Linked DNA regions of Homo sapiens: region 1 is linked to region 2. A link means that fine-mapping ties the variant in region 2 to the expression of a gene that starts in the linked region. Tissue or cell type: whole blood. Region 2 holds a variant in brackets; the other region holds the start of a gene. All regions are shown on one strand. Distances are between the middles of the regions.

Region 1 (2,739 bases), 100 kb after region 2:
ACACCTGTCACAGACTATTAGTTACTATTAGTGTTCTGTAAACTTAAATTAGTTTGGAGAACTTAACAAAAGTTTAGCTTGTTAACACCTAAAAATCTCCAGCGACCAGCGGTCACATGCCTGAAAAGAACTTACTATGAACGCCAGTAAGAACTTTACCAAACCAAAACTACAAGCCACCGTATCGAGCAGTACTTAAATTCCTCTGCTGGTAAATGCTCCACAGCCATCACAGCCATCTCAAGTTCAACACTAAATAGTTTGAGAAGAGCTGCCGACGGGCCAGTCAAAAATCTTTGTGAACTGTCACAAAAGTCACAGAGCATGTGTCAGCTTTGCAGTCCAATTCAAAACATCATAGTGCCATCGAATTCAAGCGATTCCCAGAGCAAATTATCTCGAACAGCCTATGCAATTTACCAAAGTGCCAAGCAGTCCCCAGGGGTGCAGAGCAAATTATCATTTTGGTCCCAGGACCGGCTCCTCTTCACACGAGGATGAATTTCCCTACTTAGTGCCAACTGTACACTTGCATACTCCGAAAATAGGGGCAAGCCGTGAATACCAGAGGTTACAAGGGCAATGTTTTATTTTATTATGGGCTGAAGCTCAGAAGGCTCCCAATGCTGAAACGCTCGACCTATAACCCCGGAGTCACTTTCCAACTGCGCTCTCACCCAGGGTCATTATATCCCAAACGGAAGCCAATCATTACCTGTAACAAGGCCTGGAAAAAATAGCAAGAGGGCTTTAAAAGTTCACCTAAGAAACACCGAAACGGGGTGGGGAGTGGGTGGCGGGGCTTCGATGGATAAGGCCAACCTTAAAGCATCTCGGACTCAAACATTTTAAAAGCCAAAATACGTACAAAGACCCTTTTCCCTGGAAGACCCCAGGCAGAGAGAGGCACACAGACACTCAGTCATCCCGACAGCATGGGGTGCCAAGGGTTCCCTAAGACCAGCAGCCGGGATCGAAGCTCCGATGTGTCCGGGGAAGGTCTGGGAAGCCAGGCCAGGTCCGCATTGTGGCCGGGCGGTGCACGCAGCCCCTGCTCCCGGGCCCCTTTCTCTCCCCCTCCCCACGACCAGGCCTCTCCCCGCTCCTCTCCCCTTCTCCCTTCCTCCGTCCCTCCCCTCCCCCTAGACACATACAACAAGGCCACCTCCCCCCGAACCCCACCAACTTTCCAGTGCCCCCACTCTTCCCACCTCTCAGGAGCACACAGAAGCTGCAGGCCAGGAGGCTCCTCAGGACGGCCCCCATCTTCCCTTCTCGCGTTCTCTTCTCTCACCGGCGAGGGGTGGCCAGAAGTGGGGGAGGCGAGGAGCCGGGGCGGCCGCCGCAGCGGCAGGGCTGCACGCTCATACTTCCCAGCTTCCCAGCGAGAGAAGAAAGAAAGGGGCACGTCAAGGTTCCGCGCGCGCCGCCGCCGCCCTCTCTACCGCGCCGCTCGGCCCCGGGCTCGCGCGACGCCAGCGTCTGCTTCCATCCCGCCGCCTCCTCCCCCGGCGCCCCGCTTCCCCCGCGCAGCTCCTCATTCAGCCTCTGCCTCGCGCAGCGGCGCAGGGATACGGTCGGCACCGCCTCCTAGGGTCGCCGCGACCGTGTCCCTGCGCGCAACGAGCCCCTTCTCCCGGTACTGCCTCCTGTACGGCCAGGGAAGGGAGTCGGCAACCGCACGCACAGCCTCTGCCTGAGACCCTGGGAGAGGTTCTGGGCTAGCAGAGGCGAACTGGGAGGGAAAGCCTCCTCCCGGTGGCGCATTCCAGCGGGATTCTTTCCCGGACCGGCCGCTTCGGCCCTCCCCGCGGAGGGCGTGAGGCGGCGTTGAACAACATTGGAGCCGGCGTGGTCGGGACTACTTTCTGCGGCTCGGCCGGGCAGCCGTCTGCCCCGCTCTTTGTGCGGCCGCCGCCGGCAGGGCCAGGTGGGGCTCCGGTCTCGCGCCCCCAGCCACCTGAGACTGCCCAGCCGCGGTGCACGCGCGGGGAGCCACGGCGGATCCCGTTGCGGGGTGATGAGCTCCGTCTTCGGGGTTGGAAATCGGTTTCAGCATCCTTTTTTTGGGAGGGCGGAATTTTTGAACGCTGTTTACACCGGCTTTCAGCGTGGATCTGGTGAACGATATTAAAACGCCAATTCAAAACTGAGATTGTCATTTTTCTCCCGCCTTCCCAGAAATACAAACTGCCCCCAGAATTAAGCCCGACCAGCTAAAGATTTCTAAACTGGCAGATAAAATTCCAAGATAAATGCCTCAAAACCTAAGAGCAAAGGGACAATTGGACAAGACTATTTAGGATTTTACAAGTTGCATATAATAACGAATGTTTGGCATGCTTCGATTATCAATTCTCAGCTTGAGAAGGAAAAGATTCCCTAGAATCTCAGACTGTGCACAGCCTCTGCTACTCCCAGTGCATTGGGCATTCAGGAGTAATGGCCCAGACGCCCCCTGAAATCACCTGCCAGGCTTTCGTCTGGGCAGAGGCGCTCCAACAGTTAACCCTAATGGAGCCATCAGATGCATCCTGCCCAGCTGTCACACGCCCTTACCTGGAGGCAGATGGGCAAGAAAGTGGAGCTGCTACCACAATGTTAACAAGTACCTCAGTGACATTGGAGTTCACTAGTGCTTGAACACAAGTTATCATATTTGACACTCAAAACTACCCTGGGGAAAGGCAGGTTTTGTTACTTATTCTTTATTGCACAGAGGAGCAAAATGAGAACCTG
Region 2 (2,500 bases):
GCTTGGAATCTAGTATAACTGGGAAGGAGTGCAAGCAACTACAGATGGATAATACCTCTTGGTATATATACTTAACATATCAGTATACTCATCAGTAACATTTATTAACCCATTCCCCTCTTTCTTCACCTAAAGTTAATTACGACAAGAGTAAAATTAGCTAATAATTATTCATTCAAATCAGCAAAATATCAATAGTGTTTTTAAAAGTTCATCTATCATTTAGTTCTCAGATTCCTAATACGTATTATTTAAAACATTAAGAATATCATCTGTAACTATGCCATGTTCCCCGAAATGTACACTGCAGTTGCAAAGAATGCACATGTAAAGCTGTTTACCCTTCGGCAGGGTCCAACGCGAGAGCTCTGGGACTATCTAGGTCTTTCCACACCAAAACTTGTCGGTGCTGCCCATCCAACTTTGACACCTCAATTCGATTCGTTCCTGTGTCTGCCCAGTACAAGTTCTTCCCAAGCCAGTCTACTGCCATGCCTTCTGGATAATCTAAGCCGAATTCTACCACATGTTCCAGTGCACTGCCATTCATAAAGGCTCTGCTGATGGTCTGCAAAAGAACATTAACAACTAAGTCATATGGCATAAGTCTAAACCCTATCCAGAAAGAAGGTTTGGTTTGGTTTTTGTCAGGGGCAAGAGGATCCAGAAGTGCCAAGAGGCATACTATTTCCTATTAAAATTCACATAACTTGCAAGCACAGAAAAATTTGATGTCAATCTCTAATAAATGCAACTTCAAGTTTTACTGCCAATTCAGGGGAGAAATTTTAAAACTCTAATGCACCAAAAATTTATTCTACTAACAGCAGAATGACTTTACTTTTAAAATTTATCAGTAATCAAGTGGAAAAGCTGTGACCACAATGCTACAGATCTTAATTAGTGGTCAATTTTCTAAAGGTGCTTAAGATTATGGCAAGT[C/T]ATCATGCCTACCATATAAATGAATGTAACCATTATACTACCATTATAGCACTGAGTCCCATAACACTTTTAAAAATCATAATTCAAACTAATAATAGATACATCTTATCAAGTATTATCCTAAGTACGTTTTGTCCGTAGATTTTGTCACTTAATACAACAGTCCTGCAAGTATGGCATCACCCCTATTTTATGTTTTTGAGACAGAGTCTCACTCTGTCACCCAGGCTGGAGTGCAGTGGCATGATCTCGGCTCACTGCAACTTCTGCCTCCCAGGTTCAAGTGATTCTCGTGCCTCAGTTTCCCGAGTAGCTGGGATTACAGGTATGCGCCACCATGACCAGCTAATTTTTGTATTTTTAGTAGAGACGGGGTTTTGTCATGTTGGCCAGGCTGTTCTCAAACTCGTGACCTCAGGTGATCCATGTGCCTCAGCCTCCCAAAGTGCTGGGATTTACAGGCCTGAGTCACCGCACCCAGCCACCCCCCATTTTCAAGATGAGGAAATTTAGAACATCACCCAATGCAAACCAAAATTTATTTATTTCATTTATTCACTTAATAAATTTAACTGAACACCATTAGAATCCAACTCTGACTCCAACACCCCATGTTTTCGCATATTACAAAAAAGTTTACATGAGTTATCTGAAACAAGCCCAAAACAATCTGGAAGAAGAAAAGATTATTCTTCAGATTTATAGGTTGGGAGCTTCCTCTCTGGCTATCCTGGTATTCTTTTCAGTAACTATTCTAGGAAGAAGAAAATAAAGAATAACTCATTGTTGGCCTTTTCCGCCTCAGTCAGGCCCTAAAATTTTGTTTAAAGTAAATCACGAATTTTTTTTTAAAGTAAATCAACAGCCATTTTACGTGAAGCACACATTTCCTTACTCAGCTAATTGCAGAAAATGTCATTCATCATTTTCAAATGGAAGAAAGTAGAGGAAGACTATGGCTTGCAGATTTAAAACACTCTGGCAAAGTATCTGTATTAAAAAGCATCTAATAAAATACTGAATGGGCCTTTCCCTTCACTTAAAAACTTAAGGGTTTTGGCTGGGCGCGGTGGCTCACGCCTGTAATCCCAGCACTTTGGGAGGACGAAGCGGGCGGATCACGAGGTCAAGAGTTCGAGCGGCCTGGCCAACATGGTGAAACCCCGTCACTACTAAAAATACAAAAATTAGCTGGGCGTCGTGGCACGCACCTGTAGTCCTAGCTGCTCGGGAGGCTGAAGCAGGAGAATCGCTTGAACCTGGGAGGCAGGGGTTGCAGTGAGCCGAGACTGCACCACTGCACTCCAGCCTGGGTGACAGAGCAAGACACCGTTTAAAAAAAAAAAAAAAAACTTGAGGGTTTTTGTTGAACTCTGCCTGTCAAACAATGAGGGAGGTGGGTCACAGCATGAAGATTCAGAAATTCTAGAAGTTCTCCCTTTTAGTCCCTAGCTTTAATATTCCAATTCTTTTGCTAACCTTGAGTGATATATCAGTCCAATAAATTCGGTTGTCTGTCACATCAAAATCCAAAGCAGAAGCTTCTTTGACACCAGTG

What was found. PIP is the estimated chance that this variant, and not a neighbour inherited with it, causes the effect.
Region 1: LRP6 starts here. The variant in region 2 is fine-mapped to the expression of LRP6 in whole blood (INTERVAL, PIP above 0.99).

What each region holds. Positions count from the first base shown.
Region 1 is chr12:12,265,470-12,268,208 of GRCh38, forward strand. LRP6 (LDL receptor related protein 6) reads right to left here and starts at 1,575. Exons shown (of 23, transcript NM_002336.3): 1 at 1,212-1,575. The coding sequence starts at 1,266. RefSeq lists a silencer at 1,266-1,575 and enhancers at 1,582-2,218, 1,756-1,805.
Region 2 is chr12:12,161,852-12,164,351 of GRCh38, forward strand. LRP6 (LDL receptor related protein 6) reads right to left here. Exons shown (of 23, transcript NM_002336.3): 9 at 2,422-2,500; 10 at 342-568. Among named protein-coding and RNA genes, the nearest start is that of MIR1244-4, 51 kb to the left of the region's middle. The variant C/T (reference allele first, on the strand shown) is at 943.